7 linked regions of the Homo sapiens genome follow. The protein of the gene in region 2 purifies or fractionates together with the protein of the main gene of each other region. This does not show direct contact. Each region holds a gene or a part of one and is shown on either strand. Other genes may lie near its edges. The genes, in order: STAU1, IGF2BP3, G3BP1, EIF2S3, RCC1L, PAIP1 and HNRNPM.

Region 1 (4,322 bases), on a different chromosome or scaffold from region 2:
TGGGGGGAAAGGAAGAAAATGAGGGAAGAAATATATGTCTATATTTGTATAAAGAAACATACAGGAAAGATACAGGAGAAACTAGTAAAAATGTGATCTATGGGGGAGGCGGTGGGGAGAATAGGAGGGATGGGATGGGGGCTGTCCGAGGGGAAGATTGTACCTTGTAAAATAATGCAGAGTTCTGACCATGTGAAGGTATGACCAACTCAAAAAGGTTTTTTTGTTTTTTTTTGGGACGGAGTCTTGCTCTGTCGCCCAGGCTGGAGTGCAGTGGCGCTATGTCGGCTCACTGCAACCTCCGCCTCCCAGGTTTTAAGCAGTTCTCTGCCTCGGCCTCCCAAGTAGCTGGGATTACAGGTGCCTGCCACCACACCTGGCTAATTTTTGTATTTTTAGTAGAGACAGGGTTTCACCATCTTGGCCAGGCTGGTCTTAAACACCTGACACCTCATGATCCACCTGCCTTGGCCACCCAAAGTGCTGGGATTACAGGTGTGAGCCGCTGTTCCCAGCCTCAAAATGTCTTTTAAAAGTAGAGCTTTCTGCCCAGAGAATCTGGAAAACTTTCAGGCAAAAGGGCCAGAAAGTAACTCAGGCAAATATTTCCCCGCTGAGTCAGCAGATAGTGTAAACTCAACACAAACGAGGGGCAGCCTCCCCATCATCAGCGCCTTCCCCTTCATCAGTGCACTCACACAGACATTGGTCCGTTTCCTGTTCTTGGCATCTCTGTACTTTGTTGGTCCAACTCAGACAGCAACTTTAAGATGTTCAGCGCAGCCTAGTGGGGATGGAAAGAAGGGTAAAGCCACAGCCACCGCTTGGGACCACAGCATAATACACTGGTCAGGCAGGCAAGAGAGTTCCTGCTGCCCAGCAAACAGGTGGCAACTTCTTCAACTCTGGTACTACTAAATAAAACTTTGAATTTTTAATTTAAAATACAAATTAAAAAATATTCAGTTACCTCACTGAATCATAACCTCTGAAAATGTTATATTTTTCCTTCTAGTATTTTTAACCATGTGGTAACCAGACTGTATAAATGTTATATCCTGCTTTCTAACAAAAATCTATCATGTATTTTTCTTTCTATAGAGACAGGGTCTCACTAAGTTGCCCAGGCTGGTCTCAAACTCCTAGGCTCAAGCGATCCTTCCACCTTGGCCTCCCAAAGTGCTGGAATTACAGGTGTGAGCCTCCACACCCGGCCTATCATGTATTTTTCTTCTTATTACATTATCTTCGGAGACACTGTTTTGTTTTGAAACGCAGTCTCACCCAGCTGCCCAGGCTGGAGTGCAGTAGTGCAATCTTGGCTCACTGCAACCTCCACCTCCCGGGTTCAAGCGATTCTCCTGCCTTGGCCTCCCAAGTAGCTGGGATTACAGGCACCCACCACCACACCTGGCTAATTTTTTTTTGTATTTTTAGTAGAGATGGGGTTTCACCACGTTGGCCAGGCTGGTCTTGAACTCCTGAGCTCAGGTGATCCGCCTGCCTCAGCCTCCCGCAGTGCTGGGATTAGTGTGAGCCACCACACCCCACCCAGAGACATTAATTTCATGCATGCATGACATCCCATCAAGTGAATACATCACAGTTTACTTAGATTTGTTGATCTGATCAATTCCTTTTCTCAGTTTTCTTATAACAATAATTTCATCTGAACAGAAGACCAAAGCAAGTGGTTTTTACAGCTGCCAGAACGTGGACCTGCAATTCCTTGTTCTGGTGAGAGATGAAGTGAGTGCAGTCTCTGGGTGAGCTGCAGGATCCCAGTTGCCCCTCCAGGCCAGCAGGGAAAAGGAAGGGAAAGGTGGGCTAAAGCTGATGAGTTCTGATCAAGAGTGAGAAATCGATCCAATCAGCTATGACAAAAAGTCTTCAAAAATATGAACACTATCAAACGATTCATTGCTCTCAAGGTCTATGGGACAATCTTTCTCCCATCTTCCTCAGGCTAGTAACAAGCTGAACCAAGGCAGGCTCCACATAAACACACAACACCCCAATCCCTCACCCAAGGTGTGACGTACCATATCATGGCAGGACTCCACATCCTTGCCGATACCATGGCTGATCAGAGGTGGCTGAGAGGAGCAATTGATAAGAGATACAAATTCGTTCTTGTTGTTTTTGGGGAAGTCTTTGTATTCAACCTAAGGGGGAAAAGAGAGCTGAGGCTAGGTAGGGAACAGCAAGTATGAGTGGGCTGGAGGGCTGCAGCTCCAGGCCCCACAAGCAAGATCACCAGCTCTTTTTTCCAACTCAGCCCCACTGTGGCCATACTAACACCTGCCCTGTCAGCCCAGAACCTTCCAGGAACCTAGGTGTCTGCTCAGAAGCCCAAGACTGGGAGAAGCCATATCCTTTCCTACCAGACAGAAAGTGTCAGCACGATGAGTCTGTTCTTTGAAATCCAAATTTACAACCACTGCTAGTGGTTAGAAGCTTTTAGGGTTGGCTTGCATGTTGAAATCTTACTACCAAAGGATAAAGATATTTCTCTTACCACATATGCTTACAATACTTCTATACCTCCTACCCTTCCATCACTGCTCCCCAGCCCATCCCTGGACAGAACTTGATTTAAGAAAAAAGTACAAAGTTCAAAGTTCATTTTCTGAGAGAAGCCAAAAGATGACTGTCCTGAGGCACAGCCATCACAGCTCAGGCCAGACAGTTACCTGGAATCCCTGGACTCTGGAAAGATAGTCCAGTTGCTCAGAGGGTCTCGTGAGAGGTCCATGGGGTACGTGGCCTGAAGAGATGTTATTCTTTAAAATGGTCTCGGCTGTGGGCGAGGTGCCCCCATACAACAACTCTCGGGCTATCATGGCAGTTACCGTGGCCTTGGCAGGATTCGGAGCTGCCCTGGTAAAATCTTTGGTGTGATGTCCTTGACTAACTCCTACAGCCTGGGCGACCTCGGGCACCATGGGAAGAATTCCAGCAGGCAGCTGCTGATGACTTAGATAAGGCATCCTGAACTCATCCTCTTTATTACCTGGGAGGGACATACACGGTAAACACGAATCCACATCCACAGCCTGGAAAAACGCAATGACACCATCAAACCCCACGCTGGCCCTCCCCTTGGCACGCATGGCAGCGCAGGGAATCAGGGAATGATAAAGACACTTTGCATGCGGGACCTCACTGGCTGGGCTCCTGCTGTTATTCAGGACCCATGCAAATCCCAGAATCACGTTCAGAGGAAGACGATATTAAGATCACACTTACTAGTCCCATTTTCATCCCCAGAGCCAGGTTCAAAAAAGGTTACTTTTCTTCCATCCCCTGGTTTCTTTATGGGTGTCTTAAAAAAGAAGAAGAAAAAAAAAAGGCCATGAGCATAAATCAGATCACTGAAAAATTAGCTCCTGCTGTCTAAATCTACACAAAGTCCAGTCAGCAATAACTGTGGCAATCGGCAGAAAAACCCTGCCCCACCTGACCACTGGCACCCTGACAGACACCTGGGCAGAGCCTGCCTCCTTCTCCTAATGCACCCTCCTGCCCACACCCCTGCCCACAAAGAGCATCTAACAAAGTGCACTAACCTGTGAATGCTGAGCTGCACTCTGCACCCACAGGAAGACGGGAAGCATTTAACCAGAAAGAGCAGAGATGCTAGACGGTAGAGCCCACCAAGGTGGGGAAAGAAGCTTTCAGACTGAAGCTAAACAAATAAATCAAGAATATTTCCTGGAGCTGATATCCAATTAAAAAATAAGGTGACATTCCAAAATTAACACCCTTACGGGGAAAATGTTATTACCTAAGAATTTTGTCTAACACAACATCACCTTTCTAAGAAGTAACAAAGGACACTCTGAATGTCCTACAAGATTCTGAAATGAAAAACCCTAAAGCCAAGTCTAAGATCTATACTGGTGGTATCTGGGGTCCCAGTCAGTTATTAACTGGCCATGACTGATGCTGTTTCTGTCAATATGACTGGCAGACATGAATGAATCAGGCCTGATTTCAAGTTTATCTCACCAGGACCATTCAGTGATGGGAAAGAAGAAGGTCAGCCATGGCTTTTGCTGAGGTCCTGCTTACCACTTCTGGCAGACACGAATTTTTCTTTTTACGTTCCTTTTTTGTTGTTGTTGAGACAGGGTCTGTCGCCCAGGCTGAGTGCAGTGGCATGATCACAGCTCACTGCAGCCTTGACCTTCCAAGGCTCAATCCTCCCATCTCAGCCTTGTAGCTCGGGCTACAGGTACAAGCCACCATACCTGGCTGATATTTTAATTTTTTGTAGAGACAGGGTTTCATCATGTTGCTCAGACTGGTCTTGAACTCCT
Region 2 (4,322 bases):
ATCACTTCAAAATTATAAATAGCTTTGAAACCCACTTACAAGTTATATGTATTAGAGACTAGAAACAGTTTGCTTTTTTTCCATTACAGATGTAACAAGCTGTAGATGAAATTTTTAAAATTCCTGTTAAGTGTCTGTTCCATAAAAAGCTAAAGTTTTATCAGGAGAACGTTAAATGCCCTTTATAAATATAGGACAATCCTCTCACACAAAGTGATCTGAAAGAGATGCATTACTTTCACTAATAGCTGGCACCAACACTCAGACAGGAAACAAAAGGCAATCTTCTCCAAACCTTGGTCAAGATGGTCCTGCTTTTTATAAATTAGCCAAAATTCGGGGACTTGGAACTCCTAAGTACCTTTCAACGCTTTCCCTTTCATACCACTGCACAGGTTTTGCTGAAGTACTTGCCGTTTTGCCTCCTTTTCCAATAACTCTGCCAGCAGCAAAGGATGGCACTCTGATATGAGCTTCAAGTTTCACCTCTTCTTTAGGACTAACAAAGTTTTCTTCTTTAATTTTTCCATAAATTCTTCCCTGAGCCTGCAGATGAAAACACATCCTATTAGTGTCATTCATGTATGAAATGGAAAAGGTCAGTTAACTTGAAAGATGGCCCAAATCCAAGTGGGATAGCCCTTTGCAGTGATACATCTACATTTCATAGATTGTTGAAAATAACATAGAAGAGAGCAGTTAGAAGTCCTAAAAGGTTGACAATAACTACTGCCCATCACAGTAGAGGCAACTGAATGCTTGGTGAAAGAAGGATAAACCATATTCTTCTGATGAAAACAGTTAAAGGCAATTAATAACCTAATAAAAACGAATTTTTGTGGGCAAATGGCCATTCGTACTAAAATTGTGATAGGTAAAACTTCTCATGCTGGCCATGAGACATCAGTTGCATTTTTCTTTCCTTTTTGTTGGAGTCAGGGTCCTCCTGTTGTCCAGGCTGGAGTGCAATGGTACAATCATAGCTCACTGCAGCTTCAACCTCCTGGGCTCAAGCGATCCTCCTACCTCAGCCTCCTGAGTAGCAGACTACAGGCATGCAACACCACACCTGACTTATTTTTTTTTTTTTTTTGAGACGGAGTCTTACTTTGTTGCCCAGGCTGGAGTGCAGTGGCACGATCTTGGGTCACTGCAACCCCCGCCTCCCAGGTTCAAGTGATTCTCCTGCCTCAGCCTCCTGAGTAGCTGGGACTACAGGCACTAGCCACCACACCTGGCTAATTATTTTTGCATTTTTAGTAGGCATGGGGTTTCACCATGTTGGTCAGGCTGGTCTCGAACTCCTGACTTCAAGTGATGTGCCCACCTCAGCCTTCCAAAAGTGCTAGAATTACAGGTGTGAGCCACTGCGCCACTAATTTTTATAGAGATGGGGGTCTTGCTATGTTGCCACGCTCATCACAAACTCCTGGGCTCAAGAGTCCTGCCTTGGCCTCCCAAAGTGTTGGTATTACCAGTGCAAGCCACCACACCTGGTCACATTTTTTTTGAGCAAAAGAGACAGAACTGCAGAGTCAGCTATGCCAAGCTCACTAAAAGTCAAGCTCACATCTACATGGGCCAGTTAGAAACCTGCTGAGAAAAATGTTTTCAATTTAAATGTGTTTCATACTCTTAGAAAGGTGGTTTTTCCTTTGAATATTTTAAAGAGGCTACAACATCAAGGTAAGACACTTTTTTCTTTTTTGAGACAGAGTCTCACCCTGTCATGCAGGCTGAAGTGCAATGGCATGGTTTCGGCTTACTGCAACCTCCGACCCCCGGGTTCAAGCCATTCTCCTGCCTCAGCCTCCCAAACTAGCTGGGATTACAGGTGCCCGCCACCACACCCAGCTAATTTTTTGTTGTTATTTTAGTTGAGACGGGGATTCACCATGTTGGCCAGGCTGGTCTTGAACTCCTGACCTCAGGTGATCCACCCACCTTGGCTTCCCAAAGTGTTGGGATTATGGGCATGAGCCACTCACTGTGCCCTGCCTTTTATTTTTTTTTATTTTTTTATTTTATTTTTTTTAGAGACAGAGTCTCTTTCTCTGTGGTGCGATCTCAGCACACTGCAACCTCTGTCTCCTGGGTTCAAGTGACTCTCCTGCCTCAGCCTCCTAAGTAGCTGGGATTACAGGCATCCACCACCATGCCTGGCTAATTTTTGTATTTTTAGTAGAGATGGAGTTTTGCCATGTAGGCCAGGCTGGTCTGGAACTCCTGGACTCAAGTGATCTACCCACCTAGGCCTCTCAAAGTGCTGGGATAGCAAGCGTGGGCCACCGCGCCTGGCCAAGACACTTCTGATATTTAGAGTCAATACATCCTATCACCTACTGCATGCAACTATATAAACAACCTATTATATATAAACAACCTATTACATACAGCAAAGCAGAAAGGAGCCTGAGAGTTGGTTTGACAAGCTGCCAGGGTAAACCACAAAAAACAATAGTACCCAACACGCGTTCACTGATTCAGAAAGCTGAGCTCATTTTAGGGCACTACCGACAAAACAAAATTCATCTTGATACCCTATATTCCAATGATCCTTAATGCCTCAGGCCAATGACGTAGATATTACTATTACTTAAGACAGTCAAAAAGACACTAGGGATATACACTATCCTCCAAAACTGAAGCTCTTGAATTTGTAAGGAAAAATACGGGGTAGGTGGTTTACCATTCCTTAGATCTCTAAAGTAAAACATTCATTTAGCATTGTCACCAATCACATAAATAAAATTTAACTACTATGGCTTAAGTGTTACATTTAAGTTAACTATAAAACATGAGTTTTATTAGTGAATACAGGGAAAGAACTTTGAAGTTCCTATCATACAAACATCATAGGAGTTGCAGGACAGTAATTCTACTTATAAGACTAAAAGCTCAGCACCAAGGAAAGACATGTTTGTATTTATCTTTTAAGATTTCAAACTAAAAGTGACCCTGAGAGTTTGGGATAGGAAGCAGTTTTCAACAATTCTGAGTTAAGATTTGAACTGCCTGGATCACAAGGCTGCTGTGAAGGAATAAATTTCTTCACATGATTTTCTTTCTTCACCTAACCACCCACATCTCAAAGCACCTCCTTCGTTTCCCATTCTTCACATAAGTGAAAGCAGCTTTGGGTTTTTAGTGAAAAAATGGCCCAGAGAAAATAGAAGTCAAAGAAAGTGATTTTTTTTGTTTGATTTAAGGGAGAGAGGTGGGGTGGGGAGAGAACTGTATGCACTGTTACTAGTTACTGTTACACTTTAAGGCTAAAAAAACTAAGGCTTGGCCAGGAGCACAGTGGCTGATGCCTGTAATCCCAGCACTTTGGGAGGCTAAGGTGGGCGGATCACTTGAGGTCAGGAGTTTGAGTGTGTGGCCAACATGGTGAAACCCCATCTCTACTAAAAATAAATTGGCTGGGCGTGGCGGCACATGCCTGTAATCCCAGCTACTCGGGAGGCGGAGGCAGGAGAATCGCTTGAACCCAGGAGGTGGAGTTTGCAGTGAGCTGAGATCACGCCACTGCAGTCCAGCCTGGGCGACAGAGTGAGACTCTGTCTCAAAAAAAAAAAAAAAAAAAAGAGAAAAAAAAAACTACAGCTTAAGGTTAAATAGTTGTCTTCTTACACAGCCACTAAATGTTCTAAGACAAGACACCCATACTAAATTTTGTGGGAGAAATCATACACTAAAAGGAATATATTTATGAATTTGGCATGGTCTTAGTCTGATTCATCCATAGTCTGTTGAATACCCCCAGCACGCTAATTTTGTGCTGCCCATGTGTTAGGCACTTTTCTAAACATTTCATATATTGTGTAAACCTTAAACTACCTTAGGATGTAGGTGCTCTTATCCCTGGTTTTACAGAAAAAGGTTAAGTAACTTGCCCAATGTCATACAAGGCAAATGGCAGAGCTAGGATTTGAACTAGCAGCCTGGCTGCCAAGTCTCAGCTCTACCATCTCTCAGTAGACATTGAAAGGCACACTGCAGCCCCAAAGACCTCAAATCCCACTAAACGTGCAATGGTTCATACCAGAACAAATGCTACAAGAGCTCCTGCCATTCCTATCTCTAAGATCCCAGGGATTAGAGAGATTTGTAGAGTCTATGGGCAGGGTCTAACAGAGATAATCCAAGGGTAAGGAAAAAGGGGGCATTTTAATTCAAGTCTAGGCAATCTCAGGGACAGGAGGGAAAACATCTGAAAACAAGTTTCCAAGGCATATTAACCTGGCAGGTTTGTAAATTTTAAGGTCTCACCTTAGCATAGGATTACAAACCATTAAGCAAAATTAACCTTTGAGAGACAG
Region 3 (3,916 bases), on a different chromosome or scaffold from region 2:
CCTCACAAGAAAAATCATTAAAAACCATCTTATACCCTTCTCTTCCGTCCTATATGTCAGTTCTGTTTCTACATTGATTTGGGTTGGTTTTTTTTTTTTGAGCCAGAGTCTCAGTATGTCGCCCATGATGCAGTGCAGTGGCACAATCATGACTCACTGCAGCCTCAACCTCCGGGACTCAAGCAATCCTCCCACCTCAGCTTCCTAAGTAGCTAGGACTACAGATGCATGCCACAAGGCCCAGCTAATTTCTTATTTTTTGTAGAGACAGGGTCTCACTATGTTGCCCAGACTGGTTTCAAACTCCTAGGCTCCAGTGATCAGCTGGCTTCAGCCTCCTAAAGTGCTGGGATTACAGGCATGAGCCACACTGCACCTGACCAGTTTTCACATTCTCTAAACCTCTGTTGAATCAAATTACCACAATAGAAGTAAATTTGCCTAATGTACAAGTTTTATTAGGACCTTACCTGTGAAGCTGGTACTTTAACAACATGAGGTGGTATCCCAGTAACTGGAACAGCTCCACTGGGTGGAAGATTCTTACTGGTCACAGATGCCCAAGAAAATGTCTAAGGGAGCAATACCAACATTACATAATTATACCAGGTATCAAAACAATATAAAAGCTACTAACTCTTGATTTCCTGTACAGAACAAACGGTAACACATTCTCATAGGCAGGATGGAGTTTATATATATATATTAAGATTCTTCTCTTTCAGCTATTCAAAATTTAGTACTGAAATTCCTTGGGACTGATGATCAAGTACCAAGCAAATCCGAGAGGCTTAGGTTCAAGAAACTACTCACTTTTTTTTTTGAGACAGAATCTTGCTCTGTTGCCCAGGCTGGAATGCAGTGGCATGCACACAGCTCATTGCAGCCTACATCTCCTGTGCTCAAGTGATCCTCCCACCTGTTTCCCAAGCAGCTGAAACTACAGGCATGTGCCACCATGTCCAGCTATTTTTTCTTTTTAGTAGAGATGAAGTCTCACTATATTGACCAGGCTGGTCTTGAACTCCTAAACTCAAGCAATCCTCCTGGCCTCAGCCTCCCAAAGTGCTGGGATTAAATGCGTAAGCCACAACGCCTGGCCCAACAAAAGCTACTTTCATTCAAATCTGTGAATCAAACAAAATTCCCTCTCCTCCAAAATCAGCTCAGCTCTTCCTACTGTGATTCCATCCAATCCATTGTACAAACATCGACTCAATTACATCAATTGTAGAATCATCATAAACACCTTTCTCGCACATTTAAAAATCGCCAGAACCTGTTATTCTACCTAATTATTTCTTTTCCATTTCCACTGCCACAACTCTAATTCAAGCCATCATTCTCTCTCACTAGGGTTACTATAATAACCAACTAAGTGGTCAGCTGGTCCAGCCAACCTACTTTTCCACTTGCTTCTTATGGTTTTGTTCTTGTGACAAGGTCTTACTCTATTACCCAGGCTGGAATGCAGTGGCATAATCATAGCTCACTGCAGCCTTGACTTCCCAGGCTAAGCCATCCTCCTACCTCAGCCTCCCAAGCAGGTGGGACCACACATAGGCACCACCATGCCCAGCTAATTTTTTCCACTTGCAAGCTAAAGTCATTTCAACATTGCTCTTTCCTACTCACCTATTAGCTGCCAGAGAACAAGAACCCCTATCTGTTTTGCCAATATAAAACCTACACTTTGAACAATGCCTAACACACAGCAGGAATTTGAATTATTGAACAAACAAATGACATAACCCTGAGCCTATAAACACAGCACTAAAAATTATATTCCTTTCCAGAGCACCAAATGCAAAGGTTTCAACGATAGTTCAGTTAACAATCACCCTGACGAGACTCAGAAGGACAAACTGAAAACTTCTGAAATCAGGTATGCCAACTAGAAAAGAAGTTTTACTTCAGCAGTTCATTTCTACTTCCACTATAAAGTTATCTTCAATAAAATTTCATAGAAAAAGTATATTCTGCCATGTTATTTTTCTTGAAAAGATGTTATGCACTTGTAGTAACAAGTATGTAATAATTTATAGTGTAAAAGATTAAATATTAAATAGAAAAGGAATCACTGATAGGGTGCTACAGTGGCACCTAAAATTTCTGGTCTAACAGGCATTCAAGTTACCTCGGGGAAGGGAGTGGTTTCTTTTGATGAAATAAACTAATACACATCTTACCTCTCTCTTATCAAACATATGGCTCAATATCTAAGAAATTTCCCTGAAATGAACCACCAATATGAAAATGTATCTACAAGTCAACCAAACAGCAATACAAAAGAACAGAAACTTTTTTTAAAAAAAATAACTAGGAATAGAATAAAAATGAAGACACGTTTCATACCCTCAAGTCTTCCTGTACTGTCTGAGCTATGTCTGCAGGTGCTGGAGAAGAACTCTTCTGAGCATCCTCAGGGGCAGTTTCTTCTAATACTGGCTCAGGCTTTTCCTCTTGGATTTCAGATACAGGTTCTTGTTCTGGTTCTGGTTCAGGATCAGGCTCTGGTTCAGCAACAGGCTCCTCTAAATGTTCTTCCATGTCATTACTTTGACAGGAAAATTTGAGAAATATCATTCTGCCACCATTTATTTCACAAAAAATTCCTCCATCATTTATTAATCAGAAACCAGAACACAGAGTTAGCTCCTTCTATCCAAAACAAAAATCTAAGAATTGTATATCTATCTGAGTTTTTAAAAAGTAATTTTTAAAATGCCACTCAATAACTTAACTGGAATCCATTTGTTTGGCAAATTCTGATAAGCAAATGAATCAGGACATCAAAATGAACCAAACCACTTTATGGCTGGAATCCCACAACTATTACAATTCATTTAGCATACAACATCAGAAAAACTCTCAAAATAGGCTGGGGCGGGGGGGGCGGGAAAGAAAGTTGCCATTCAATGGGTATAGTCTGTTTATAAGGTATATAAAGTTATCTTCAATAAAAGTTGTAAGGTGAAAAGTCCTAGATATCTGTCATAGAACCACATCTATACAGTTAACACTACTGTACTTTACACTTAAAAATGGTTAAGATGAAAAAAAGGTTAAGATGGCAAATTTTATGATATGTGGCTTTTAACACAAACACACAAAAACTCTTTCAAGCACATAAGGAATTTGGGGGAGAAAATAGTTATGATTCAGAATACAATTCTTAAAATTCCACATAAATCAACCAGAAATGCTGTTAAAACTGCAGAGGGGGCTGGGCACACACCTGTAATCCCAGCACTTTGCGAGGCCAAGGTGGGCAGATCACCTGAGATTAGGAGTTCCAGACCAGCCTGGCCAATATGGCGAAACCCCATCTCTACAAAAACACAAAACTTAGCCGGGCATGGTGGCGTGCGCCTGTAGTCCCAGCTACTCAGGAGGCTGAGGCAGGGGGATTGCTTGAATCCAGGAAGCGGAGGTTGCAGTCAGCCAAGATCGCGCCACTGCACTCCAGCCTGGGTAACAGAGCAAGACTCTGTCTCAATAGAACAAAAACAAACAAAACTGCAGATGTTTTGCCTCCTGAAAGTCTAATTCGGTAGGTTTGCAGTGGGACCATGAATCTTCATTTTCAACCAGCAACCCAAGTGAGTAACCTGATTAGTTCATCACACCTTAAGAAACACTTGAAAACACCCTTCAGGCACTGAATATTAACATTCAGTATCACATGGTAACAAGTAAATATGGATTTCTATTGCTATCAAACACATTTCTGTTCTAATCACAAGGGGGAAAAAACCCAAAGGTATAATGATGCACTTACTAACGTAATGAAATTCTTTATTGCTACTTAACTCACATATTGGTATTTATATCAATTTATGCCCGATCTCTAATTAAATAGGTCTCTGTCCACTTCATATTCCCTCAAAGCATTTAATACCTCAATACATTCAAC
Region 4 (4,322 bases), on a different chromosome or scaffold from region 2:
GCTGGAGTGCAATGGTGTGACCTCAGCTCACTGCAACCTCCACCTCCTGGGTTCAAGCGATTCCCCTGCCTCAGCCTCCAGAGTAGCTGGGATTACAGGCACCTGCCACCACACCCGGCTAACTTTTGTATTTTTAGTAGAGACAGGGTTTCGCCATGTTGGCCAGGCTGGTCTCGAACTCCTGACCTCATGATCCGCCCACCTCAGCCTCCCAAAGTGCTGGGATTACAGGCGTGAGCCACCACACCTGGCTGTAATGTACTTTCATGAGAAACATTACAGGCACATTCTCAACTAGGTACATCTCTTGCTAAGAATCACTGCTCTGGCTTCAAGTTCTATTAAAATAAGGTCCATTTACTTCCTATCTGTATATGCCCATTACACTCAGTACAGTGCTTTACAAATTTGCTAATTCATGTGGATGTCTGAAATTAATTATAATAGAATTCTGGTTTCAAATCTTACATGAGATTAATTACAATGTCTATATTTTAAGTCTTATTCCAAAATTTCTGGTAGAAGGTACCTACAAAACACATGGGGACATGTTAGATATAAAATTAGTTTGATTTAGAATTGTTTTATTTGTGTTCCTCATGCTACAACACAACCTTCAAAGTCAGCGAAGTTTATAACATTAATATGCTTCCTCAAAACATCAATTTAGGCAACCCATAGCCAGAGCTTCTAAACTTCTACAATGCAACTTCAACATTCACAAGAGCACAATATGCTTCAAATCCCATCTCAATGCAAATTTAAGAAAAGCAAAGCAAATTGTATTATCAGTCTACCAAAACTCAGTAAGATTCTGTAATTTAATATACCTACTTCTCAACTCTCTAAATTTGTTTCTCAACACTGGGGAGTTTTTAAAGATATCAATGCCTGAATTCTACTCCAAGCCAATTAAATCAGAACAATTAAAATCAGAATCTCTGTGGGGCATCTTTTTTTTTTTTAAAGCTTCCCCAGCAACGTCAGCAAGAGTTGCAAATCACTGCTCAACAGAACCTCTTACGAAGCAAAAACATAAAGAAAAATAAGCCGGGCAGAGTGGCTCACGCCTGTAATCCCAGCACTTTGGAAGGCAGAGGCGGGCGGATCACCTGAGGTTAGGAGTTCAAGACCAGCCTGGGCAACATGGTGAAACCCCATCTCTACTAAAAATACAAAAATTAGCCGGGTATGGTGGCAAGTGCCTGTAATATCAGCTACATGGGAGGCTGAAGCACGAGAATCACTTGAATCAGGGAGGCAGAGGTTGCAGCGAGCCAAGATCGTGCCACTGTACTCTAGCCTAGGTGACGGAGTGAGCCTCCGTCTCAAAAAAAAAAAGGAAAAGCACACGAAGTATAGGGACATGGGGAATAAGTTAAAAATCAAAAGGACTCACTCATTGCTTTCTAACATCTTTTACTTCTTGACCTTTTGAAACATCCAAAAATTAGTAGTAGTATAATCTATGTCACAATCATAATATAACAGTTAAGAAAAAACATAAAATGAAGGCCTAAAAAGATCTTTGTTACTCATCTAGAATTATTTGGTATAACAGTATTTTCCCATGGAGGAAGACTTGGATTTCAGGCATTAAACAACGCAGAAAAAAATCTCAAGGCATCACAGGGAGAGGGAGATAACTTTTGACTCTGGTTTCCCGTGTTTCAGGCCAGGAAGAGCAAGGGGAGAAAAATATTTGTCCATGGGAACAAGTAATCATGCTCTAAAGGACAATTTCATTCGAATCCATTCATTTCCTTTTCATGCAAAATTTCAAAGATAAAGCAACATAAAATATGGGGCCACATAAAAGGGAGAAGGTCTTCAAGGAGAATTTGTGCCTTTAAGTTTTTACTGGTACAACAGTCTTTCAGCCTGGAGGTACTCAAAGACGAATCATGAAAAAGAAAAAAAACTTTATTTCAAACAGGTTCAGTGATATATGTGTGTGCTACAGCAAAGGCTGGTTGTGGCAAAGTTTCATTTCAAACTGTATGATGTGGGCTGGGCAAGGTGGCTCACGCCTGTAATCCCAGCACTTTGTGAGGCCGAGGTGGGCTGATCACCCTGAGGTCAGGAGAGACCGGCCTAGCCAACATGCTGAAACCCCGTCTCTACTAATAATACAAAAATTAGCCAAGTGTGGTGGCGCGCACCTGTAATCTCAGCTACTCGGGAGGCTGAGGCAGGAGAATCGCTTGAACCCGGGGGGCAGAGGTTGCAGATCACGCCACTGCACTCCAGCCTGGGTGACAGAGCCAGACTCAAAAACAAAACAAAATAAAACAAACAAAAAAACAGAACTGCATGATGTATAATTTTGACATTATGTGGGAATGTTTAACTTCTGCCAAAATGTAGATTCAATCCAACATTATGCCAATTTTTATATTAATTTTAGTCCCTAAGTTTTCATAACCAAAAAAAAAAAAAAAAAAAAAGAGAATAACCTTACCGTTACCTACTAAGGTAACGAACTGTGAAATCAATTCCCCAATATTGCTTTGAAAATAAACCCCTTGGTTGTTAAGAGGAATTCCAACTTCCAAATCCATCCGAATGTATTATTTAACTGGTATTCTTCAGTCATCATCTACTGTTGGCTTGATTGTCACTCCTCTTCTTATCTGACCCCAACCAATTAAACTGCAAAATGAAAATAAAAGAAATCATAAATCTTACATCCACTTCACTCTCATTACCACACAATCTTGTGATAAATTTTACCTGCTTATCTTCTGAATTCAAATTTGTTCCCAAAGCCTGCTCCTCCATAAAGAAAGCCCACACTATATTCTTAGATTCTTTTTTATTCTTGCTTTTGTGTGTTTTTTCTGAGACAGTCTCACTCTGTCACCCAGTCTGGAGTGCGGTGGTACGATCTCGGCTCACTGCAACCTCTGGCTCCTGGGTTCAAACAATTCTCATGCCTCAGCCTCCCGAGTAGCTGGGACTACAGGCATGCGCCACCATGCCCGGCTGATTTTTTGGTATTTTTAGTAGAGATGGGGTTTCACTATGTCGGCCAGGCTGGTTGCGAACTCCTGGCCTCAAGTGATCCGCCCACCTCGGCCTCACAAAGTGCTGGGCTTACAGGCATGAGCCACCGTGCCTGGACTGAAAGTTTATTGCTTAAATCTATTTCAAAATACACTGGAAGTCGTGTGTCTGTAATAGCAAAAAAATATAATCACAAAAGACAGTAAAATCAAAAGGGCATAAGTCACCACAAATAATTATTTACTTAAGAGACAACAAAAATTTAACTTTCTAAATTACAGGGCAATAATTCAGATAAATCTCCTGGACAAGTGATGAGACCATCGTGGGCACAGTAGCATGGAAGCCTTAATAAAGGAAACAGGGCTGGGCGGGGTGGCTCATGTCTGTAATCCCAACACTTTGAGAGGCTGAGGTGGGAGGATGGCTTGAGGCCAGGAGTTTGAGATCATGCTGGGCAACACAGTGAGACCAAGTGTCTACAAAAAACAAAAAAATTAGCTGATCACGGTGGTGTGAGCCAATAGTCCTAGCTACTTAGACACTGAGGCTGCAGTGAGCTATGATCATGCCACTAAACTCCAGCCTGGTCAACAGAGAGACCCTGCCTCTAAAAAATATAAAATAAATAATTAAGGAAGTAGATAGTGGGTAGGGGTGATGTGAATAATTATGGGGACAGTTAGGGCACAAAACAGTCTAATTTAGAGGGTTTATATAAGACAATGCAGAAGGAAAGCTTAAATGGGTTGAAGCAGGTTTCTAGAAAAGTCCCAAATATCAAAAAGTAGTGAGAAGACTCTAGAAATTATTAAACACAGCATGATGAAAATGTTTTAAGAAGACTAATTTTGACCAAGTTAAGAGGCAAACTAGGAGTCTTTCGCACTAACTGTGAAGTGTAAAGTGATGGTGGTATGGACTGTGATGAGGTGACGAGGAATGGAAAGCAAGGGGCAAACTCAATAACCTGGGAAAGAGCAAAAAGTCAGGAGCCAAAAATGTGTGTATGCTTCCTGGCTCTATGCTCTCAAAAGACCTAGAAGCAACAGCACCCTAAGAGCCATGAGCACACCTGAACACTCAGCTTTTCATTTATAAGAGAAATGGCCAGTTCTAAAACTGGAACAGAGAAGGTACAAGATGAGTCTGGAAGATTTTGTGCCAGAAAATAAGGAAATGTTCCAAAAAAAAGAAGAAAGAGGTCAGGCGTGGTGGCTCATGCCTGTAATCCCAGCACTTTGGGAGGCCAAGGAGGGCGGATCACCTGAGGTCGGGGGTTAAAGACCAGGCTGGCCAACGTGGTGAAACCCCGT
Region 5 (4,322 bases), about 52 Mb from region 2:
ATGAAAACCGAGGGCCGAAGCCAGCCTGACTCCCTCGCCTAAGCTGGGGCTCGGTCCGAGGCACACGCATGGCCTTGGCCAGACACAAACCAAGAGACTGCCATGACAGACAGAGCAGAAACCTCCCGAGCACTGTGTTCAAGCTAAGCTTTCCTAAGACGGGCTTCTCAGGCGAGACGTGACACCAGACACCGTCGCATGTTACTTGGAGAGAACAGAGACGTGCGGGCCACAGCGGCCCACCAAAGGCTGCCATCCAAGCTGAGTTCCGCAGGCCTCACCTGCAGCTGGAGAGGGACCTTGCCCTGATCCTCCTGGTAGGTACCCGCTAAGGGATTCAGGACAGAGCGTCACACTGCACGCAGGGTCCTCCGCCACCACCATCCAAGAACCCCGGGGGGCTGGCCACGCGCTGGCCTCTGCCAAGGAGTGCCAGTGGTTCCCGGGACGGGGCCGCCCAAGCAGGTGAGGGAGGTTTAGATGAATGACTTGGCCAGGGTCACCATGTGGTCCACGCCACATGCCACGTCCACAGGCTCCCCAGGCATCGTCACCTGAAAAATAAGATCCAGCATACCATGGGTGGGGGTGGCGCACCCGGAGGAGACAGGCGCTGGTGTTGGCCGACCCGGCCCTGCCTCTCAGTAGGAGACTCAGTAGGAGACAGCTTGTCTCAGCAGGAGACAGCTTGTCTCAGTAGGAGACAGCTTCTCTGAGCCTCGGCTCCCTACCCTCTGGGAATGGGGGCACTTAGGCCTCCCCAGCAGGTCCATCAGGACAACTGCGTGTGGTCATGAGGACAAGGCCATCCCAACTCCCTCCAGTCAATGGCAGCCATCACCATTCACATCAGCCTGAGAGGGCATGTCGGGCAGGAACATGGGCCTGTGTGCATCCCTGGAACCTGCACGCCCTACAGGGGCTGCTCCCCTCTGACCCTAACCCCACTAGGCTCCATGCCCCCAGGCCAGGTGTTCAGAGATCTCTCCTGGGAGCCACTGCTATGGCTCACTAAGAAGCTCCAGGGGCTGGGCGCTGTAGCTCACGCCCATAATCTCAGCACTTTGGGAGGCCAAGGCAGGCGGATCACGTGAGGTCAGAAGTTTGAGACCAGCCAGGCGTGGTGGCAGGCGCCTGTAATCCCAGCTACTCGGGAGGCTGAGGTGGGAGAATTGCTTGAACCCAGGAGGTAGAGGCTGCAGTGAGCCAAGATTGCACCACTACACTCCAGCCTGGGTGACAGAGCGAGACTCTGTCTCAAAAACAAGCTCCAGAAACCCTGTCTCTTGCCTTGCAGGTCCAGTCTGGGAATCAGGCCCCACTGGCCCAACATCTCCACTCATCTTACCCGTCACCCCCAGCTCCAGTCACAGGCAGGCTGCGTCCCAAGTCACGACCACCAAGCAGGGGCAGTGGCTGTGTCTCAAAGACCCTTGCCAGGAGCCCTGATCACACTGCCTGTCTGGGCTGACAACATGGCATCAGAGGACAGCCCAAGCTTCAAGGGAGCAAGAAGATGGCCTCACTGAGACATGGAGGCTCTAGCCTGTTGGAAGGGCGCCCACTGTTCTATAGCCTCGCCATGGAAACGGACACCCTCAACAACTCCAGGTGTGCCCAGGGCCATAGCCAATCCAGCTATCCAGGAAAGGGGCACTCTGCTTTCTCTTTCTTGTTTATTATGACTAGGCAGTGCATTCACATAGCTGCAAGATAAAAGGACATTCAGTGAAAAAGAAGAAAAAGCTATTAAATGATTTTTATGCCGGGCGCAGTGGCTCACACCTGTAATCCCAGCACTTTGGGAGGCTGAGGTGGACTCCACTTGAGGTCAGGAGTTCAAGACCAGCCTGGCCAACATGGTGAAACCCTGTCTCTACTAAAAATACAAAAATTATCTGGGTGTGGTGGCGCACGCCTATAACCCCAGCTACTCGGGAGGCTGAGGCAGGAGAATCGCTTGAACCTGGGAGGTGGAGGTTGCAGTGAGCTGAGATCGCACCACTGCACTCCAGCCTGGGCGACAGAGCAAGACTCTGTCTCGAAAAAAAAAAAAAAAAAAAAAAAAGTCTTTCATTACCACACCTATCACCAGCTGCCCCAGTCCCCATCTGCCTCTGAACTGAAAACTACTTTTAACTGATTTCTTATTAACTTTCCAGAGGTTTGTTTTGTTTTTGTTTTAAGAGACAGGGTCTAGGCCAGGCGCAGTGGCTCACGCCTGTAATCCCAGCACTTTGGGAGGCCGCGGTGGGCAGGAGTTTGAGACCAGCCTGGCCAACATGGTGAAACCCCGTCTCTACTAAAAATGCAAAAATTAGCTGGGCATGGTGGCAGGCGCCTGTAATCCCAGCTACTCAGGAGGCTAAAGTAGGAGAATTGCTTGAACTCAGGAGACAGAGGTTGCAGTGAGCCGAGATCACGCCATTGCACTCCAGCCTGAGCAACAGAGCAAGACTCTGGCTCAGAAACAAAAAAGAGGCAGAGTCTCACTTTGTTGCCCAGGCTGGAGTCTAGTGGTGCAATCACTGCAGGCTTAACCTCCTGGGCTCAAGTGATTTTCCCGCCTTAGCCTCCCAAGTAGCTGGGACTACAGGCACGTGCCACCATGCCTGGCTAATTTTGTTTGTTTGTTTGTAGAGACAGAGGTCTCACTATGTTGCCGAGGCTGGATTATAGAGACACAATCATAGCTCGCACTACAATGTCGAACTCCTGGGCTCAAGCTATCCTCCCACCTCACCCTCCCAAGTAGCTAGGACTACTGGCATGCACCACTATGCTCAGCTTATTTTTGTATTTTTTGTAGAGACAGGGTCTTGCCATGTTGCCCAGGCTGGTCTCGAACTCCTGGGCTCAAGTGATTCTCCTGCTTCAGCCTCCCGAAGTGCTGGGATTCCAGGTGTGATCCCCAGGCCTGGCCTTCCAGAGGTTCTTTATGCAAAGAAGCAGATATGCATCTCTCTTTTTTTTTTTTTTGAGACGGAGTCTCGCTCTGTCACCAGGCTAGAGTGCAGTGGCGCAATCTCAGTTCACTGCAACCTCCGACTCCCTGGTTCAAGCGATTCTCCTGCCTCAGCCTCCCAAGTAGCTGGGATTACAGGCATGCAGTACCATGCCCAGCTAATTTTTGTATTTTTCGTAGAGATGGGGTTTCACCATGTTGGCTAGGATGGTCTTGATCTTCTGACCTCGTGAGCCACCTGCCTTGGCCTCCCAAAGCGCTGGGATTACAGGCGTGAGCCGCTGCACCTGGCCTTCTCTTCCTTTCTTAAGTGCCAACTGCAAAGAAAGTGACCCTGCCTGGCTTGGCCGGAAGACCCCTGCCAGGATGCTGGCACTTGATCTACTGACCAGATCCGAATTCGACCACCCTCCCCTGGTGGCAGCATGCAGCCAGGTGGTGTGACAGCTGGAAAGGGGATCTGTCACAGTCTGTGGAGTTTACCGAGCTTAAGAGGGAAACCGCCTAATCCAGATGGCCTGGCCCTAAAAGCCGAGAGGCGGCAGGCGCCGACCCCGGAGCTTTGCACCTACGCCAGGAGACAAGACCATTAGGGACTCCTGGCCACAGCAGATGGATGCTAGAAACCAAGTCATGCTGTCATCCCCCAGCCCTGTCCCTAAACAAATGAATGTCTTTAGCAGAACCTATTACAGGAATCACTAAACAAACAAGAACGGGGCCCAGTGAATCGCAAAGGCACGTCGATGCAGAAAGCCTGAGAGGCTGGCCGGAGAAGAAAACAGGCTGCCTCTGCAGGGACTGGGCCCCGACCGCCTCTTAGCAACCTCCCCAGCCATTAGGGAGCACTTTATTTACCTTTCCCGGGACAGTGCGCTTCCTCACGGCTGCACTTAAGCCCCCAGGTCCTTGCTCCCCGAGGGCTCTGGCCATTCAAGCCCAAAGCAAAGGAAGCCACGATGGTCTCTGCTGCGGGTGGCCTGGGCAGCAAGGGCCCGGCTCCTGGGAGCCAGCCCTAGGGACCAGCGGGAGGCTCCCCAAGGTTCCAGCTCCCCCTGGCGGACAATCTCACACGGTCTCTGAACTGAGTCCAAGAGGAGACTGCCCTCAGCCATGTTTTATTTTTGTCCTAGGCAAGGTTAAATGGCGTTTTTCTTCTAAGCCAATTTACACTCACAACTCCGCTGCTGAGGGAAACAGTTCCAAAAACCAGAACCATATTTAGCCTTGGTGACTCTCTTAAAAGTCTCAGCAGAATCCATTTAGGAACATCCCTATCCACAATTACAAGTTGCTAAAACGAACGCCCACCAGGTGAAAGACGGGGGTGCGGGAAGAAGGAACCCTGGGCGGTGAG
Region 6 (4,322 bases), on a different chromosome or scaffold from region 2:
AGCCTTCTACTGTGTGCCGGAAGGCTAAGTATTTATGTATTCTCATGTAGTTCTCAAGAAAAAAAAAAAAAAGACTCAACAGGTACTACTATTCTTATTTTATAGATGGAGAAGCAGAACAGAAGTTGCCCAAGATCTTACAGTAAGTTTTAGAGCTTCTTAAAGTCTAAATACAATAGAATCTATTTTAAAAAAATAATTATGCTTAAGTATACTATATTTTAATGGTTATTTTCCTCAACTATACATTTTTCAGAACTAGTCTGTGAGTTAATACAATTTTCTGAAAATTTTTAGTACATAAACACTACCACATAGCACCATCAAATCAAAATGCCTTTTTTTTTTTTGAGACAGAATCTAGTTATGTCTCCCAAGCTGGAGTGCAGTGGCACGATCTCGGCTCACTGCAACCTCTGCCTTCCAAGTTCAAGCAATTCTTGTGCCTCAGCCTCCCGAGTAGCTGTGATTCTGTGATCCTGGCTAATTTTTGTACTTTTAGTAGAGACAGGGTTTCGCCATGTTGGCCAGGCTGGTCTTGAACTCTTGGCCTCAAGTGATCTGCCCTCCTCAGCCTCCCAAAGTGTTGGGATTACAGGCACGAGCCACTGCGCCTGGCCCCAAACACCATTCCTTCATGAGCTACTTTGTCTAATCTCCACCTATAAATTAGACACAGAAATTTCACGAAGTTAGTAACTGAAGAAAACTTACGGATCACCAGCCCCGGATAAATCTGTTCCATTTTCTTCATAATCTGGAAAAAAGTCCTCTCTTTCAAGTAATTCTTGGTATTTCTCTTGGTAATCTGTAAGACAACATAGGAGAAAAACTAAATACTGAAAAAATATCACATGAAATGACCAATCACCCCTAAATGTTTTTTAATATTATGACTTTTGCCCCCCTGCATGCTCAGAAATCTTAAAGTAATTACATATAGTACTATAGATATAAGTTGGAAATCAAAGCCACTGTAGGTGATGTACATTCATAGCCAATGTGTTTATATCCTCTACTGCTGCTTTCCATCAGACAAAATAATGGTTATATAACTGTTGGGGAAGAACAGTCCTTCCATTGGAAAGATATTAATCAAATACTACTGGTTTCCAGCTCCCTCTGTACTCCTCCACAAGGAAGTAAAGAAAGCAGGTAACAACAATTGGTCTCTGTTCCTCAGATGAAGTTAACCTACCAAAAGTTTTAACAATGGGGGATTTTCCTTCCCTTTCTTCCCAGAGAGATGGGGAAGGCAGCTACCTGGTAAACGTTTCAGCTCTGCCAACTTTCCTTTCATTGGGTCCTCCAAGGTAATACAGGTGATATTACACCTATCTGCCAATTGTCTTAGGAAGAGTTATTGGGTACCTTTTAAGTTAAGTATTTCTTTATGAAGTCCTAACCTCTGAATAAAAAAATGAATCAGTATATATTAAGACTAGTTACCTTATAGTTTCTTATGAACAGAAGCCAACGGAAATTTTGCAATTATATTAGACTGGGTAAAAGCCATGTTCTTCCAAGACTGTGTCAGTCTGTATAAAACCGTAACTCCAGCTTCAAGGGCTGGGGACATTTTGATACCCAATTTTGACAATTTAGAGACCGTTTTAACAGTAAAACCTTCCTGCTACAAAAAGACAGGCATTCTTTTAAATGTATGGATAAGTTCACAAAAAAGAAAATCCAAGTCATCAGGTCACAAATGAAGAAGGAACTGAAAGCCATATATAAACTGCAGCTGCTGCAGCTGGGAGGCTGACAGATGATGTTGGTCTCGGTAACTAAGGGGCTTGGATTTTAAAACCCACAGAAAGCCAGAAAGCAAGGTCTTGGGCCCCATGTGAAACAGGAAAATGAAATCCATGCTCCATGCCCAACCTCACCTGCACAAACCTGGGACCCTCAAAGGTCTGGTATCTTAAACAAAAGGTGAATCAGGAAAAAAGACCAAGAAATATCTCAGTGGTATTTTATCTTCCCTGCGAGATAGCAGGAAGCTTGGTCATGTCTGCCTGGGTTTGGAATAGGGACAGAGCACTTTGTAGAAATTGGTGCCCCAGAGAATTTTTAACAATGGGCCTGCACCTCAAATTCCTACTACCCACATAAAGAACCCCTATGACAAGAAAACAAAAAATTTGTCCAAGTCAGTGATACCTACTCTGTGGCTCCTGGCAGAAGGAAATATAAACCATTTTGGACAGAGGTTCCTATAATCCAAGCCACAGTGTTTTTCATTAAAAAAAAAATGAAAAAAGAAAAAAGAAAAAAGACAAAGCACTGAAGCATTTAATCAGGGTCATATTAATATGAAACTTCAAATGGTTTAAGAAAAAAAAAAAAAGTGTGTGGACAAGGTCAGGAAGTCAAGACCAGCCTGACCAACATGGTGAAACCCTGTCTCAATAAAAAAAAAAAAAAAATACAAAATTAGCCAGGCGTGGTGGCACAGGCCTGTAATCCCAGCTACTTGGGAGGCTGAGGCAGGAGAATTGCTTGAACTCAGGAGGTGGAGGTTGCAGTAAGCCGAGGTTGCATCACCGCACCCCAGCCTGGGTAACAGAGTGAGACTCTGTCTCAAAAAAAAAAAAAAAAAAAAAGAGAAAAAAAGAAAAGTGTGTGGAAAGAGCACAAATGATAAAGCAAGTAACTGTTAACAAAAAGTACACCTGGGTAAAAGGTATTCCTTGTACAATTTTACTTTTGTAACTTTTCTGTAAGTTTGAAATCATTTCCAAATAAAAGTTTAAGACGGTTAAGGCAAAAATTTTATGTGTGATGATCAGAAATAACAGAAGGGTTATAATTAAGAGATAAAACAAAAATATAAGACAGAAGTAAGCATGTTTAGAATGATGAGAAAAAATAACTTGAAACTCTGAGAAAAGGTCAAGATTATTTGAACAAAATGCAGAAACAAAATTTAGCTTGATTTTTCTGTAAAACTGTAAGATTTCTTTTACTTTCATGAAGTATAGCAGATTAAAAAACGTTTAAGAAAAAGAAACTGAGATCTACTGGCTGTCTACATTACTTCTTTTCCTTGAAAAGAAACTGAACAACCAAACTGAATTTCTGTAAATCGAACAGTACTAGAAACAATTAAACAGGTTAGAAAAAATAAAAAACAAATAATCAAAATAAATCAAGGTAATTTTTAAGAATAAGAGGAAAGATTTGTCTTACCAGACATAGCAAGATTCACAGTAAGGTAAAAATAATTTAAGTGTAGTATTGGCATAGAAAGAGATTAACAGAAAAAAAGATTCACACAAACACAGGAATAAGACACAATTTGATAGAAGAGTTACATAGTATACAACAAAGGGGGCTTATTATAACTAGGAAAGGAAGGATGGCTTAATACCAATTGTTGAGACAACAGGCAATGGAAAAGATAATTCCTATGATATCATCCTATATAAAAATTGCACTGGTAGATTAAAGACCTAAAAATAAAAAAGAACAATGATTTTTAGAAGAAAACAGAAATGGTAAGGAAACTTTCTTAAACCACAGAAATTACAAACAAGACTGATAAATTTTGTTCACATTAAAACTCAAAGGTTCTACATGACATTATAAACAAAATGCAAAGACAGGCAAATACTGAGAGAAAGAAGGTAACCAAAACCCTCAGCTAAGAATCACTTTGTTCTAGACTACAAAAGGAATTACAGATCAGTAAGACAGACAAATGATCCAACAGAAATATGAACAAAGAGTATTAGCAGGCAATTCTCAAAGAAAGAAATCAAAAAGGTCAACAAGAACAAGAAAACTTCAATATCACTTGTCAGGGAAATAAAATATCAGCAAGATAGAATTTCATACAATCTGATGGACAAAAATTAAGTTTAATAAAAAGTATTGCCAAAGATGAGGAGCAGGAACCCTCATGTGCTGCTGATGGGAAGATTAAGTGGCATAATCATGCTAGAAAACAATTTAGTAACATTTAGTGAAGTTTAAGATGCCCATAGCGTGTAACTTAATTCTACTTCCTTGCCCTAAAAAAACTTCTCTGTGCTAGAGACACAGGACAGTCAATGCTTGGAATCCAGAGGAAACAAATGGAAAAATTCCAACCATAAGCTGGTTGCAGTTTGTACCAAAGGGAAAAATTTCTCTTCCTCACTCTACAGTTCCATCTAATACAATTAAGGCAATCTTTCTATAAATGGTCCTCTTCTGGAAGAGGAAATGTGCAGAGATTTGGATTTTAATTAACTGTCACACACCAAGTATGAATGAAATGTGTAATTCTTCGTGTAAAGTATTAACCCATATTAATATATGTTGCTGACTATGCAGTG
Region 7 (4,322 bases), on a different chromosome or scaffold from region 2:
AGCCACCGCGCCTGGCCGACATTTAACAATCTTTTGATTTACATTTTTATAGCCACTCTATCAAGATTTGACTCATGCTGAGTGTGGGTCCTGGGAACCTGCATGACCAGCAGTCTGATGGGAGCACCCATGACCATAATGGCTACACTCTAGTCATGAATTAACATTTCATTAAACCCAAACGTCTGCTTCAATTCTTCCTCCAGTGTGATGTACAGTTTCCTTGCAGTGCCCAAGGGCTCTAGAGCTCATCCCACCCAAACCAAAGAATGCTGGTCAAGTGGGAAGGAGTCCCTGTTCTCAGCTGTAGAGGGTGTGGGGAGCACTCCGAGTGCCGTATCTCAGAACATCTAAGAACAGTCTAGGAAAACACACTCCATTTGTGGTTCTCCAGAGAATCAGCACTTGGAATCCTTTGCCACCGCGTACCCCAGGCTCTGAATCCTGACTGCGAGATTACACCTGCCAGTTCACCATCGACTGTGTCACACGGCTCAGCACAGCTCCCAGGCCAACCCATCCTGATTTCCATCTACTTCTAAACTGCATCACTCTACTCCTCACAGCAACAACTCAAATTCCCTAATGACTAATCTGTTCTTAAAAAAAAAAAAAAAAAAAAAAAAGAGAGAGATGGGGTTTCGCAGTGTTGCCTAGGCTGATCTTGAACTCCTGAGCTCAAGCAATCCTCTTACCCCAGCCTCCCAAAGTGTTGGGATTACAGGCGTGAGCCAGCACACCCAGACTAATCTGCTCTGAGTAACATTTTACCAAGCCAGATTTCTGAAACTTTTTTTAAAAATTAAAATCCCATGCACACACAAGTTACAGGCAAGCTTGAATGTACACTGGAAACGCAGACCTCTGTTGCTTTATTACTAATGGTGACAACTTTCCTACATCCTTTTACCAGCTTCTAGAACAAGGCACCCATGAAGAGGGCAACACACATCATGCCCCACTGCTCCCTGTGCACCGGAAGAAGGGCCTGATCATCAGGGACAGCCGCCTTTCAAGCCTGACAATGATGTCTGTCCTTGTACCATTTTCACATCCTTTGTTATGGCAGACCCGCAAAGGAAGGTTTATACCTAAATCCCTAATGACTTCTCAGTCCAAGAAAGTTTCTGTGTAAAAAAGCAGCAGCTTTCCTGCAGTGAAGGGGAAGGTCAAAGAGTCACCAACACATAAAGGATTTCAAAAAGGAAAATTTACAATTTCTCATGCACACTCTACAGCCCTGCTGGTGCCCTGGGCCAAGTGCTGTGCTGGAGGCACTTCTAAAAGGCAGGATTCCCACATGATGAAGTGCCAGGCTCTGGAGCCAGACAGCCTGGGTTCACATGCAGGCACCACTGTTTACCAGTCACTTGACCTAGGCATGTCACTCTCTGTGCCTCAGTTTCAGATGAAACAAGGATAGCAGTATGTACATATCATGTGGTTCTCACAAGGACTAAATGAAATACTACATTGTTATTATATTATTATATTTCTGCTAAAAAGTTGGGGGCAGGTGCCGAGCACGGTGGCTCACGCCTGTAATCCCAGCACTTTGGGAGGCTGAGGCGGGCGGATCACATGAAGTCAGGAGTTCGAGGCCAGCCTGGCCAACATGGTGAAACTCCGACTCTACTAAACATATAAAAATTATCCAGGCATGGTGGCACACACCTGTAATACCAGCTACTCAGGAGGCTGGGGCAGGAGAATCACTTGAACCTGGGAGGCGGAGGTTGCAGTGAGCCAAGATCGCACCATTGCACTCCAGCCTAGGTGACAGAGTGAGACCCTGTCTCAAAAAAAAAAAAAAAAAAGTTGGTGGAGGATTTGAATTATACTAAACCAGAATTTGCATTATGTAAATGCTAAATTAAAAGAGCCTGTGATTTTTATTAACGCCTCTATAGACAACTTGTAGCTGGGGCAGATGACCAAGAACAACCCTTTGCAGCACTCCCAGAGACAAACTTGATTACAAACTTTAAAGAATCCCTCATACTCGGAGACCATAACCACGAACGTGTACATGCTTTTTAACACTGTACTCGAAAATTACTGCAGAGCTTGGGAACACAGGACATCTCAAAAGACTAGCGACCAAGTGAAGTAAGTCTACTATTATGTCTAGTTTTTGAAATATTTAAGGCAATTCAAAAGACATTTGATTCGGTTGAAAAGCAGAAGTGAGAAACCACTTATTCAGTGGGTCTGCAGCCTAAAAGTCACCTGAGAGGCAACAGCCGGCAAAGGGTGAGTGAAAGCAGGAAGAAAACACGATGCTTACCATTTATCCTGCCCATGTTCATCCCAGATCCAAATCGACCCATGTTTTCCATACCACCACCAAAGGGCCCCTCCATTCCTGCAAGAGAGGTTCACATTTCAGCATCATCCAACAAGACTGCTTAGACTAAGCAGGGAAAGAAAAATTCTATCACATGTTTCAACTGGGGTATCTTCTGCCAAGAACTTACCAAGTTTAAAGGCTTTTGAAAAACAAAAAAAATGCTAGCACCCTTGTTTAAAAATCACCCATCTTCAAAAAGCTGGTCTGATCCAACCCCCTCAATGAATAGACAAGCAAAAAGAGGCATAGAGATGGAGTGGTCTGCCCAAGGTCACAGAGCTAGTTAGTGAGACAGCCAGAACCAAAAGCCAAGACACCCGCTGGAAGGATGGACAGGCAGGAGGAAGTCATTTCTAGACTCAAACTGAAACCAAAGAGAATTTCATGCAGGGTTTAAACAAGAAAGAAAAGAGGAAAGAGAGAAAACTATGCCTAAAAGTGATTATGCTTGTACTTCATTTTAAATTTCTTACCTCCCATTTTATTTATTCCAAATCCTATGCCTTCCATTCCCATTCCTTAAAAAGAAAAAGTCAATGCAAACTAAAATTATGTCAAAGCAGTAAATAACGTTTGAACTTAAAAAGCATAATTCCAAACCAGCAAAAGAACTCAAAAGAAAATCCCTGATGACAAGTATATTTTATATATTTTAATCAGCAAGAAAAAAAGCCCTTACCATTTCAACTGTCAAATATCATATAGCTATTTTTTTTTTTTTTAAACACAGTATTGCTCTGTCACCCAGGCTGGAATGCAATGGCACAATCTTGGCTCACTGCAACCTCCACCTCCCGGGTTCAAGCAATTCTCCTGCCTCAGCCTCCCGACTAGCTGAGATTACAGGCGCCTGCTACCACGCCTGGCTAATCTTTTTCTGAGGGATCTACATACTTTAATGACCCAGTCGGGCAGGGTTTTTGTGTTTTTTTTGTTTTTGAGACAGGGTCTCCTTCTGTCACTGGGGCTGGAATGCAGTGGCATGGTCACAGCTCCCTACAGCCTCAACATCCCAGGCTCAAGTGATCCTCTTGCCTCAGCCTCCCAAGTAGCTGGGACTACGCCACCACACCTGGCTGATTTTTTTTATATTTTGTAGAGATGGAGTCTATGTCGCCTAGACTAGTCTCAAACCCTCGGCCTCCAAATTGCTGGGATTACAGGCATAAGCCACCACACCAGGCCTCAAGTTAGGCAGTATTAAACATGAAATAGAATTATAAGACACATTCTATGGAACATAAACTTTTTAGAAAATTTTAGGGAACAGAAGTAGATTTTTTTTAAGAATCCCTGTTAAGGGTGGGCGTGGTGACTCACGCCTGTAATCCCAGCACTTCAGGAAGCCGAGGCGGGTGGATCACCTGAGGTCAGGAGTTCCAGCCCGGCCTGACCAACATGGTGAAACCCTGTCTCTACTAAATACAAAAAATTAGCTGGGTGTGGTGGCACATGCCTGTAATCCCAGCTACTTGGGAGGCTGAGGCAGGAGAATCACTTGAACCCAGGAGGCAGAGATTGAGTGCGGTAAGCTGAGATTGAGCCACTGCACTCCAGCCTGGGCAACAAGAGCAAAATTCCGTCTCAATAAATCAATCCCTGTTAAAGGTAAAATCTTCAAAATAAAAACCAGTTCCTAAAAACACCAAGACTTCCTCCCCAACCCCCAGTCTTTCTGTTTAGATGTCAGACATGGGGTGTGTGTGTTTTGGGTCGGGGGAAACGTTAACAGCCATTTGAAGTTGTGGCCCAGAATTTAAGTCAGCCCCAGGGTGACTCTGGAAGAGAGTCTAGGGATATGCAACACTGACAATGGTGGGATAGAGGGGCTTCCATATTCCAATTTCAAAGGATTCCAACAAAGACCAAAGTCTAAGGTCATAAAAATGACATATTCCTTAATAGAATCAAAATACATCATTACACAGCAATGAAAATGCTAAACAGCAAAGCCTGAGTTTATTCTACACAT

Evidence for each region.
Region 1: the proteins of IGF2BP3 (region 2) and STAU1 purify together in Homo sapiens (affinity purification with mass spectrometry; 2 studies listed by BioGRID). This does not show direct contact.
Region 3: the proteins of IGF2BP3 (region 2) and G3BP1 purify together in Homo sapiens (affinity purification with mass spectrometry; 2 studies listed by BioGRID). This does not show direct contact.
Region 4: the proteins of IGF2BP3 (region 2) and EIF2S3 purify together in Homo sapiens (affinity purification with mass spectrometry; 2 studies listed by BioGRID and IntAct, with this or other methods). This does not show direct contact.
Region 5: the proteins of IGF2BP3 (region 2) and RCC1L purify together in Homo sapiens (co-immunoprecipitation; 2 studies listed by BioGRID and IntAct, with this or other methods). This does not show direct contact.
Region 6: the proteins of IGF2BP3 (region 2) and PAIP1 purify together in Homo sapiens (co-immunoprecipitation; 2 studies listed by BioGRID and IntAct, with this or other methods). This does not show direct contact.
Region 7: the proteins of IGF2BP3 (region 2) and HNRNPM purify together in Homo sapiens (affinity purification with mass spectrometry; 2 studies listed by BioGRID, with this or other methods). This does not show direct contact.

The regions. Positions count from the first base shown.
Region 1 is NC_000020.11:49,115,084-49,119,405, forward strand, and holds part of STAU1 (double-stranded RNA-binding protein Staufen homolog 1), read right to left. Parts: intron 3,326-4,322; coding exon 3,250-3,325; intron 3,014-3,249; coding exon 2,694-3,013; intron 2,166-2,693; coding exon 2,043-2,165; intron 785-2,042; coding exon 699-784; intron 1-698. UniProt on the Homo sapiens protein: Binds double-stranded RNA (regardless of the sequence) and tubulin.
Region 2 is NC_000007.14:23,313,108-23,317,429, forward strand, and holds part of IGF2BP3 (insulin-like growth factor 2 mRNA-binding protein 3), read right to left. Parts: intron 547-4,322; coding exon 415-546; coding exon of another isoform or gene 362-414; intron 1-361. UniProt on the Homo sapiens protein: RNA-binding factor that may recruit target transcripts to cytoplasmic protein-RNA complexes (mRNPs). This transcript 'caging' into mRNPs allows mRNA transport and transient storage.
Region 3 is NC_000005.10:151,795,868-151,799,783, reverse strand, and holds part of G3BP1 (ras GTPase-activating protein-binding protein 1), read right to left. Parts: intron 2,558-3,916; coding exon 2,356-2,557; intron 573-2,355; coding exon 471-572; intron 1-470. UniProt on the Homo sapiens protein: Protein involved in various processes, such as stress granule formation and innate immunity. Plays an essential role in stress granule formation.
Region 4 is NC_000023.11:24,075,052-24,079,373, reverse strand, and holds the end of EIF2S3 (eukaryotic translation initiation factor 2 subunit 3), read right to left. Parts: intron 2,653-4,322; coding exon 2,589-2,652; 3' UTR 564-2,588; downstream 1-563. UniProt on the Homo sapiens protein: Member of the eIF2 complex that functions in the early steps of protein synthesis by forming a ternary complex with GTP and initiator tRNA.
Region 5 is NC_000007.14:75,042,556-75,046,877, forward strand, and holds part of RCC1L (RCC1-like G exchanging factor-like protein), read right to left. Parts: intron 555-4,322; coding exon 477-554; 3' UTR 1-476. UniProt on the Homo sapiens protein: Guanine nucleotide exchange factor (GEF) for mitochondrial dynamin-related GTPase OPA1. Activates OPA1, by exchanging bound GDP for free GTP, and drives OPA1 and MFN1-dependent mitochondrial fusion. Plays an essential role in mitochondrial ribosome biogenesis.
Region 6 is NC_000005.10:43,529,072-43,533,393, forward strand, and holds part of PAIP1 (polyadenylate-binding protein-interacting protein 1), read right to left. Parts: intron 809-4,322; coding exon 715-808; intron 1-714. UniProt on the Homo sapiens protein: Acts as a coactivator in the regulation of translation initiation of poly(A)-containing mRNAs. Its stimulatory activity on translation is mediated via its action on PABPC1. Competes with PAIP2 for binding to PABPC1.
Region 7 is NC_000019.10:8,472,210-8,476,531, reverse strand, and holds part of HNRNPM (heterogeneous nuclear ribonucleoprotein M), read right to left. Parts: intron 2,869-4,322; coding exon 2,824-2,868; intron 2,366-2,823; coding exon 2,288-2,365; intron 1-2,287. UniProt on the Homo sapiens protein: Pre-mRNA binding protein in vivo, binds avidly to poly(G) and poly(U) RNA homopolymers in vitro. Involved in splicing.